Homo sapiens: one gene and its partner. The protein of the gene in region 2 purifies or fractionates together with the protein of the main gene of each other region. This does not show direct contact. Each region holds a gene or a part of one and is shown on either strand. Other genes may lie near its edges.

The links. The genes of interacting proteins can lie anywhere in the genome.
Region 1: the proteins of SIDT2 (region 2) and LRRC8D purify together in Homo sapiens (affinity purification with mass spectrometry; one large-scale study listed by BioGRID and IntAct). This does not show direct contact.

Annotation. Positions count from the first base shown.
Region 1 is NC_000001.11:89,927,973-89,933,237, forward strand, and holds part of LRRC8D (volume-regulated anion channel subunit LRRC8D), read left to right. Parts: intron 1-1,835; exon of another isoform or gene 1,836-1,906; intron 1,907-5,094; 5' UTR 5,095-5,096; coding exon 5,097-5,265. UniProt on the Homo sapiens protein: Non-essential component of the volume-regulated anion channel (VRAC, also named VSOAC channel), an anion channel required to maintain a constant cell volume in response to extracellular or intracellular osmotic changes.
Region 2 is NC_000011.10:117,188,309-117,193,573, forward strand, and holds part of SIDT2 (SID1 transmembrane family member 2 precursor), read left to right. Parts: intron 1-399; coding exon 400-518; intron 519-860; coding exon 861-934; intron 935-1,026; coding exon 1,027-1,093; intron 1,094-1,643; coding exon 1,644-1,717; intron 1,718-1,857; coding exon 1,858-1,981; intron 1,982-2,314; coding exon 2,315-2,432; intron 2,433-3,569; coding exon 3,570-3,706; intron 3,707-3,945; coding exon 3,946-4,054; intron 4,055-4,265; coding exon 4,266-4,342; intron 4,343-4,511; coding exon 4,512-4,558; intron 4,559-4,844; coding exon 4,845-4,950; intron 4,951-5,265.

The DNA.
Region 1 (5,265 bases), on a different chromosome or scaffold from region 2:
TGAGAGTAGGGCATGGTGGATTACAAAGGTGAATAAGACATATTCTCTGCCTACAAGGAGCTCAAGATCTAGTGGAAGAGACCAAGATTAGAAACAGATTTTGTTTTTGTTTTTGAGACGGGAGTCTTGCTCTGTTTCCCAGGCTGGAGTGCCATGGCATGATCTCGCCGCACTGCAACCTCCGCCACCCGGTTTCGAGCAATTCTTCCTGCCTCAGCCTCCTGAGTAGCTGGGATTACAGGCGCCTGGCACCAAGCCCCGCTAATTTTTGTATTTTTGGTGGAGACGGGGTTTCACCATGTTGGCCAGGCTGGTCTCAAACTCCTGACCTCAGGTGATCTGCCCACCTCGGCCTCCCAAAGTGCTGGGATTATAGACGTGAGCCACCATGCCCGGCCTACAAACACATTATTATTAGACAACATGATAGCAATTTGAAGGAAAAGGTAGTGCTTGAGCTGGGACTTAATAAGGAAAAGTTCAATAGAAAGAAAAAAGAAAAATGGGCTGGAGAAAACAGCAAGGGCACAAAACTTCTGGTGGGGGGTGGCAGAGTAGACAATGTGCTGGAAGAGAGGAGCTCATCTGAGGTTGGAGTGGTCATGTGCTGTCTGTTATTCAGTGTTACCATTCTTGCGGGGAGTCTGGGGCCGGAGCTGGTGACTGTGTGTGAAGTTACAGTACTCTGTACTCTGTTGCTATGCCCACTGCCACTACCTTTGAACTTTTCTTTTCCCACTGGGAAGGTGGACAGCCTCTTCTATTTCCTGGGATCAAAGCCTGTCCTGAGTACAAGGTGCTTGAAAACTACCATTGACACTTCAACAGCTGCAAAATAACACTGGTTGCAAGAATCCAACAATGTCTCTGCTGTGTGGTCCTTTAACTGTTTATTTTTATGCTGGGACCTGGCTTAGAGTGTTCATTCTTGCATAGATCCAGGTTGCTTTGTGGTAGCAATTCAGGTTAATAAAATGCTCCTCTGCCCAATACCATCTGTAGATGTTAATAAATGTTCTCAAGGAATTTTTAGGATGCTGAAGATGATGATCAAGATCTCAAAATCATTTCATTGATTAAGTACCTACTATGTGTCAGGCATTGGATACATAGGACAAAGAAGGAAGTGGGCATAGTGCATATCTTCATTGAATTGGTAATCCAATGGGAGATCAGACAAGTAAATACAGTGTGATAAGGGCTGTGATGGGCGGAGGTACAGAGTATTGTGGGAACACATGGAAGAAACACCTCACCCATACTAGGAGATCAGGGAAGGCTTTCTGGAAAAGGCTGCAGAAACCTGATAGCCTAGTGAAGAGGAGTAGGGAGGAAGTAATCAAGGCAGAGGAAACAAAGTGTTGGAGAGGCTGAACACAAGGGAGAGAATGGCTTGTTAGAGAAACTGGCAGAAGTTACTGGCCTGGAACAGAGAGAGCCTGAAGAGTTTTTACCAAGGGACCCATGGCAAGATGGAAAAGGGATTAAAGGAGGTAAAGACTGGCAGCAGAAAGACCAGTTGTAATAATCATGGTGTAAAAGACAAATAACCAATGTCCTCAGTACACTGACTTTCAAAATTCACTTATCTCTCAATCTGCCAAGCCAGACATCCTGGCCTCCCTAGAACCAGATACAATTACAGTCACATGTCTCTTCATGGGGATACCTTCTGAGAAATGTATTGTTAGGCAATTTCATTGTTGTGTAAATATCAGAGTGTACTTACACAAAGCTAGATGGTGTGTGTGTGTATATGCATGTATGTATGTATTCATATGGAAAACCAAATTCCCAACATCATTACTGAATATCAGTCCTTTCCCCTACTTCAGGAGTCCCCGGGCCCCAGGCTGCAGACTGGTACCTGTCGAGAGCTGTTAGGAACTGGGCTTCACGGCAGTAGGTGAGCGGCGGGAGAGTGAGCATTACTGCCTGAGCTCCGTTTTGTGTCAGATCAGCAGCAGCATTAGATTCTCATAGTAGCATGAATCCTATCATGAACTGCTCATGTGAGGGATCTAGGTTGTGCACACCTTGTGAGAATCTAATGCCTGATGATCCAACCAAGATGAAACAGTTTCATCCCAAAACCATCTCTCCCCCCAACCCCCATTTCTGGAAAAATTGTCTTCTACAAAACTTGTCTGTGGTGCCAAAAAGGTTGAGGACCGCTGCCCTACTTGATCTGTAATGCCAGTGATTAGTGCTCTGTATCAGGTTTCTATGTACTTCATTATAAAATGGAGTCTCACTCTGTCACCCAGGCTGGAGTGCAGTGGTGTGATCTTGGCTCACTGCAACCTCCTCCTCCTGGGTTCAAGCAATTTTTCTGCCTCAGCCTCCCAAGTAGCTGGGATTAAAGCGTGAACCACTATGCCTGGCTAATTTTTGTATTTTTAGTAGAGATGGGGTTTCACCATATTCGCCAGGCTGGTCTCAAACTCCGCCTCAAATGATCCACCCACCTCGGCCTCCCAAAGTGCTGGGATTATAGGCATGAGCCACCATCTCGTATCTTATGGGACCACCATCATATATGCAGTCCATTGTTGACCAAAACACCATTATGCAGTTCATGACTCTTTTTAAAAAGTAAAGAAAAATCCTATTTGAAAGAACTATTACATGCAAAAAAATCTATTGTTCCTATTACTCATGCAGATGGCCCTTTAAAGCCATGGTCCCCAGGTATGACTGTTACGTTCCTTGCCAGAAATAAACCTGTGCAAGGTGTACTCTCTAGTCTCTGTATGTGAAGTAAGAGTCATTCTGTGCTTGATGCTGTGTTTTGTGCATTCTAGATAGGAACTGAAGAGCTCAAAATGACATGAGGTTGAGCTGTTTCTCATTTAGGTTAGCTTGCTGTGATTCCAGTAGCTTTTCTTCCTGCTTATCCAAGCCATTCATGAAAGCAAAACCCACACAAGATACAGGAGCTCAGAATAAAAGGAGTTCAAGTGGGCGTGTTATCTCCCACTTCCCCTACTAAGGTACAAAGTTATTTTTCTTTTTTTCACTTCCTTGGTAATTTTTTTTTTTTTTTTTTTTTTTTACAAAGACTGGTTACCAGGCATTTCATACTTAAGCCCTGAAGTCTGGGAATGTGATTTCTAACAATTTTATGTTTGGAGTTCTTAGACTTGTGTTTACCTGCTTACATAAGAGATAATTTTGCTTACAAAACTAACTACAGATGTGATCATTGCTGTAGTATTCATTGTATTTTATTAAAAAATATTATGAACCTACTCTGTGCAGTACTAGGTATGTGGAAGGGTTTCGGAAAAAAAAAAAAAAAAAAAAAGACCTGGTCCCTGCCTTCAGAAACTTAATTTAAAACAGAGCAGAATCAAAGTACTAATGCCACCTTTCTTCATTGTGTCATCCAAGGAAGACACAAGTAATCAGTCACAGCACTGTTTCCTACTGAAACCAGAATCAGCCTCAGAATCCTCCTCAACACAGCATTCCAGACAACCCATGAATAGATAATTCATCTTCCTGGTTGGGTGTGGTGGCTCACACCTGTAATCCCAGCACTTTGGGAGGCCAAGGTGGGCAGATCACAAGGTCAGGAGTTCGAGACCAGCCTGGCCAATATGGTGAAACCCTGTCTCTACTAAAAATACAAAAATTAGGTGGGTGTGGTGGTGGATGCCTGTAGTCCCAGCTACTCGGGAGGCTGAGGCAGGAGAATCGCTTGAACCAAGGAGGCAGAGGTTGCAGTGAGCTGAGATCGCGCCACTGCACTCTAGCCTGGGTGACAGAGTGAGGCTCTGTCTCAAAAATAAATAAATAAATAAAAATATTAAAAATTCATCTTCCATCCTTAATTTAAAAAAATACATGCATTCCCAAAACTCTTGGGTACTTGCCTTGATTTTTATTGCTTGGTCTTTTGCTAGTTTTTAAAGAAATAACATGATTTCTTTCTTTAAAAAAGACAAAGCAATATAAATATGGAAACCCAAGAACCTCTCAAGAAATGAAAATATGGTCATGTGGTTTTTCAAGAAGTTGAAACATTCAGTTCATGCACATAATTAGAGAAGCCCATTCCCATTACTTGCCACTAGAAACACTGTTTTTCTTGGTTACTTCCAGGATGATTGTCCTTGTCCTTTATTATTTGTATAAACTAGTTCCGTGCTATAAAGCTGTCAGCTGATAGTGAATAATAACCACATTTTCAAGTTTCCTGGCACCGGGGCTTCATTCATGGCTGCTCGGGTCACCTGCTTTGGTAGAGATCGTATGTCTTCCTGGTGCTGACTTATTCAGCATCACCATCATTGATTATTTCATGGCCACCTGAGTCTTGAGCTGTCTTCTCAATCCACATGCTTTCCATAGGACTGCATCAAAGGCCAGAGTTTCAGCTATATATATTGATAAATCCCAAGTGTGTATAGTAAGACTCCTCCTAAACGCTAGACCCTTAGTTTCAACTGTTCATGGACACTTCCACCAGAGTGATTGGAGCTAACGTAAACAGCTAACAAACACTTGTGGCCAGAGGATGTGCTAAGAGCGTTACAATCATTACTTAATTTAACCTTTCCAACAACCCTTAGAAGTTTTCATCCCTATTATACAGATGGGAAATACACAAGGCTTAAGGAATCAACCATTAGTAAGTGTTAGAACTAAGTCTGGAACATAAGACTATCCAAAGTTTAACGGTATTTAATGGTATACACAGACCTTTCAATTTTGGCTTATACAAAATAAGAGTCATCCCACTCCTTGACCTCCAAATTTCAGTCTTAACCTTTAATGAGTCCACAACAAATGCCATCCTGCTGTCATACCCTCCTTCAAGGTCCACTAAGTAACCACTATGGACTTGGTGCAGTCTGTCATAATTTCTTACCTAGAATGCAATTCTTACTCATTCTTTCCCTCTTCCCTTGCACTAGGAGAGAAAAGCTGTATATTCCCCTTTTAGTTTATTTTCTACTACATTTATATTGGATAAAAAGATAGGACCTGAATGAGAAAACTTTAGTTAGGAGCAGGCATAGGGTTTTTCTCATTTACTCTTTTCATTTGCATCTCTAGAATAATGTCTTTTGTCTTCTTGTTTTCTAGGAATGTTTACCCTTGCGGAAGTTGCATCACTTAATGACATTCAGCCAACTTACCGAATCCTGAAACCATGGTGGGATGTGTTTATGGATTACCTAGCTGTTGTTATGTTAATGGTAGCCATCTTTGCAGGAACCATGCAACTTACCAAAGATCAGGTGGTCTGTTTGCCAG
Region 2 (5,265 bases):
GCAGCCAAGGCAGTGTCTTCTCAGAACCCACAGGGCTGGGCACCCTTGAATCAGCATGACTTGCCGAGTTCAATCCTGTTGTTTGTGTCTGCTGCCTGGGGTCTGCCTTGTGTCCTGGCCTGGGAAGCCCTAGCCCATGAGGGGTGCCAGGAACAGAGCAAAGCTAGAGCGGCCCCTGTGTGGTGGCCTCTTCTAGAGTCTACCATCATCCCCCAGGACTTAGGAGCACCTGATGTCTCCTCCCAGCTCCTGAGCCCACTTCCACCCCAACTCTGAGGCCCAGCCCACAATTTGCCTCTTCCCTACTGCCTAATAATTGTTACAATTGCCTCAGATGGGCGAGGGCCACTGTGGGTTTTGTGTCCACCGGTGCAACCCCTCCCTCCCTGCCCTTTCCAGGCCGCTCCTTTGAACCTGTAGGTACTCGGCCCCGAGTGGACTCCATGAGCTCTGTGGAGGAGGATGACTACGACACATTGACCGACATCGATTCCGACAAGAATGTCATTCGCACCAAGGTCTGACCCGTGGGCCTGGCCTGGTCAGGCGTTTCCTGAGAAAGGGACATTCTGCGTTCCCGCCCCAGCATGTTCCCACTGACGTGGCATTTAGGGAAGCAGAAGGAAGGGGCTCAGCTGGGGCAGGGCAGATGCCGGGGAAACTAACCTGACCTCCAACCCCTTCCGGCCTGATTGGCCAAACCCTCTTGGTCTAAGCGGCCGCAGCAGTGGGATGTCCTTGAACCCTGCCCCCCTGAATTCGGCCCTGTGTGAGGGAGGCCCCTCTTGTCCACCTCTAACCTGGGGGAGGGGGCTTCTCCCAAGTAGCAGTAAGTGGGGCTGATTCCAGCTTCTCCCCAGCAATACCTCTATGTGGCTGACCTGGCACGGAAGGACAAGCGTGTTCTGCGGAAAAAGTACCAGATCTACTTCTGGTGAGTGGGCTGAGTGTCTGGGGCTCTGCTGTTGGTGGGTGTGTGGCAGCCTTGGGTGCCACCCACCTCACTGCCGCCCTCCTGCTCCGCAGGAACATTGCCACCATTGCTGTCTTCTATGCCCTTCCTGTGGTGCAGCTGGTGATCACCTACCAGACGGTGAGAGGGCAGGGCAGGTTCACCTTTCCGACAGCCTAGGACACCGCCCCAAAGTGCAGAGCCTCCCAGCCTGGGGCCCTGGTGTTCCATCACAGGACCTGGGTTCAGATCCCAGCTCTGCCTTCCCAGCCGAGTGACCCAGGGCAAATCACATAACCCCCCCAACCCTGAGTGTCAGTTTCTTCATCTGCAAAATGGGAGCAGCCCGCACTAAAGATAGCCCCTCCCTGGTTTCTTGTGCGGATTATGAAACCAAAGTCCTGGGGCTTTGTAAGCATCAGTTTCCCTTCCCTTTTCTCTGTCCCGTGGGGCAAGAACTTCCATCACGGTCATGCCTCAGGGTTTTCAGCCACGCCTAATGAGAGGGGACAGCGACTGTGCTGCATGGCATCCATGTTCTCAGAAGGAACACGTGCCTGCGGTGCTGTGTATTCCCACCTGCTAGCTGTGGTGGCACTTGCTGTTTTTTGCCAAAGGGGCCCGGATGGCGGGGCGTGGGCTGAGTTGGGCGTGACGACAGACCCACTCCCTGTCCCTGCTCCTGCTACAGGTGGTGAATGTCACAGGGAATCAGGACATCTGCTACTACAACTTCCTCTGCGCCCACCCACTGGGCAATCTCAGGTGGGGGTCATGCTGGGAGGCCCCTTGTCCAGGCCAAGGGTGAAATGGGGCAGGGCCTGGGGCTTTGCAATGCCCACGTGGGCTAGGGAAGAGGCCTGGGTGTGAGTCCCAAGCAGTCTGCCTTGTGTTGCCCCTTCTAGCGCCTTCAACAACATCCTCAGCAACCTGGGGTACATCCTGCTGGGGCTGCTTTTCCTGCTCATCATCCTGCAACGGGAGATCAACCACAACCGGGCCCTGCTGCGCAATGACCTCTGTGCCCTGGTAAGGGAGCACCTGCCTGCCTGCCGCAGCCTCAGCTCCAGCACAGACCTCAAGCCTTGGCTCCAGGACACCCTTTTGGGCAGGCCTGGCCCTGCCTTCCCCAGCTCTCCCCTCCCCAGTTCTGTCTGGCCCACCCTATCCAGCCCAGCCTGCCCCACCCTGCCCTGCCCTCCCTTGCCAGCCTGCCCAGGCCAGCCCACCCCTGCACACCCACACTCGACACATACCCCACCCCTTTTCCTCTTCCACTCCTCTTAGGGTCCCTCTTTTGGGTCCCTTCTTCCCTTCCTGCCTCACTTCCTCCCTCCCTTCCCTTCTCTCTCTCCCCAACAGGAATGTGGGATCCCCAAACACTTTGGGCTTTTCTACGCCATGGGCACAGCCCTGATGATGGAGGGGCTGCTCAGTGCTTGCTATCATGTGTGCCCCAACTATACCAATTTCCAGTTTGGTGAGTGGGGCGTCCTTCTTTTCTGGCTCAACCTACAGCAGGGACCTGCCTGAGTCCTTCACTATCCCCAAGTCACCCACAGGGATCGCTAAGACACCCCTGTAGGAAACTCCAAGGCTGGCGTGCCTGGGTGTGCACACATCCTAGCCTATGGAACATGGGCACCTAGATGCTGCTTCATTCATCTGTCAAGCTATTCCTATGTAAAGGCATGTGCCGCAGTGAAGAAAACAGTATAATTAAGAAGGGGTCCCTGGCCGGGTGCAGTGGCTCACGCCTGTAATCCCAGCACTTTGGGAGGCCGAGGCAGATGGATCACGAGGTCAGGAGCTCCAGACCATCCTGGCTAACATGGTGAAACCCCGTCTCTACTAAAAATACAAAAAATTAGCCGGGCACAGTGGCAGGCGCCTGTAGTCCCAGCTGCTCGGGAGGCTGAGGCAGGAGAATGGCATGAATCCGGGAGGCAGAGTTTGCAATGAGCCAAGATCACGCCCTGCGCTCTAGCCTGGGCAACAGAGCGAGACTCCGTCTCAAAAAAAAAAAAAAGAAGGGGGCCCTGGCTGGGCACTGTGGCTCATGCCTGTAATCCTAGCACTTTGGGAGGCTGAGGCGGGGGGATCGCCCAAGGTGGGGAGTTTGAGATCAGCCGGGCCAACATGGTGAAACCCCATCTCTACTAAAAATGCAAAGATTAGCTGGGTGTGGTGGTGCATGCCTGTAATCTCAGCTACTCAGGGGGCTGAGGCAGGAGAATTGCTTGAGCCCAGGAAGCGGAGGTTGCAGTGAGCCGAGATCCCACCATTGCACGCCAGCCTGGGCGACAGAGTGAGACTCCGTCTCCAAAAAAATAAAAGGGAGTCCCTGATCTCAGGGTGCTCACAGACTAAGACACAGACCAAGTTGTCCCTGTTTTCAGGAGATGTCAGACTCTGGGTGACAGCCAGTGGGGTGGCAGTGTGGTGTGGCAGGTACAACTAAGGAACTGAAGTTCAAGTGCCACCCTGCCACCAGCTCACACCATGGCCGTGGTGGGGCACCAGGGCTCTCTCTTCCTCTGGGATTGTTGGGGCCAGGAGTTCTCTGCTGGGGCTTGGTGGCCATTTCTGCAGCTCCCTTCCGTGTCCCTCATCCTAGACACATCGTTCATGTACATGATCGCCGGACTCTGCATGCTGAAGCTCTACCAGAAGCGGCACCCGGACATCAACGCCAGCGCCTACAGTGCCTACGCCTGCCTGGCCATTGTCATCTTCTTCTCTGTGCTGGGCGTGGTGAGGGCCTGACCTGCTCTGCTCAGCCTGTATGATAGGAAAGGTGCACGTGCGTTCAGACACGTAGTGCACACCCTCCGCCACCTCCTGCATGAGAGATTCCTGCTCCTTCCCTGAGATGCCTTCCTGGGCCCCTCTCAGAGTCCCAGCCTGGCTGAGCAGCCAGCCCCAGGAAGGGTGGGCCATCCGAGCCACTTCCCTCTCCACCCTCACCGCTGCCCTTGGTGGCCTCCCGACAGGTCTTTGGCAAAGGGAACACGGCGTTCTGGATCGTCTTCTCCATCATTCACATCATCGCCACCCTGCTCCTCAGCACGCAGCTCTATTACATGGGCCGGTGGAAACTGGGTAAGGGCACGCCCGGGGCAGGGCCTGGGGGAGGGGTCTGGGGGGCCTTGGGAACCCGGACGCACGGGAGACGCTCAGGTTCTGTCTTGGGGGCCCTGGAGTCACTGGGTGAGGAATTAGATCAGGCCTGGGCTCCTCAGCTGGCACATCCCAGGGGTCCAGCAAAGGAGGGTGCCCCGTGCCTGTCAGCACCACTCCCTTCTCTTCGCAGACTCGGGGATCTTCCGCCGCATCCTCCACGTGCTCTACACAGACTGCATCCGGCAGTGCAGCGGGCCGCTCTACGTGGTACCTGCCTGGTTCCCCTGCTCCATTCTCCACATCTCCTTTCTTCCCTCTGATGGGGGAGTGGGGCTGGGCTGAGGACCCAGGGGAGAGTGGGGACCAGCTGGCTGGGCCTTCTTCCACCACCCTCCCTGCCCCTGCCCTCAGTCCCTGTGTCCCTGCTTCCCTCCAGGACCGCATGGTGCTGCTGGTCATGGGCAACGTCATCAACTGGTCGCTGTGAGTATGGTCAGCAGTAGTGGCCTGGTTGGGTGGACAGCTGGGGACTCGGTCAGCCACTGGCTGCCTTGGGGGCTAAGGACAACTTCCAAATGTTGGGCATAAGACATGGGGGCTAAGAGAGATCTTGGCCTCTCTTCTCTCTCTTGGCATCTGGGCTTCTAGAATCTTCTGTGGGCTTCTGAACACAGCCCAACATCATAATAAAACATGCCTAGGCAGGGCAGGAAGAGCACTTCCTTGCCCTTGGGCTTCCTGCTTCACCACCCTTCATCCCTCTTGCCAGGGCTGCCTATGGGCTTATCATGCGCCCCAATGATTTCGCTTCCTACTTGTTGGCCATTGGCATCTGCAACCTGCTCCTTTACTTCGCCTTCTACATCATCATGAAGGTGAGTGGGGCTGGCCAAGCCCCCTCTGTCAGCTGCTCTGCTATCTGGGGAGAGAGATGGGCCCGGCAGCATTGAGGGGCAGTGAGAAGTTTTCTGTCCCATCTTTGCTGGTTGCGGAGGGGAGAGGCTAAAGCCTCTTGCATGGGCCCCTGGGAGCCAACTGCAGCCCAAAGACCATTTACTGAGCCCCTTCCAAGGGCCCTTGAAACAGGTGGCATTTTAGGCTGCAGTTGTAAGTGCCCCTTTCCATGCAGAAGGGGCTGAGGGGAGGTAGGGTGTGGGCCTCTCAGGATCAGGTGCTTCCCCAGAAACCAT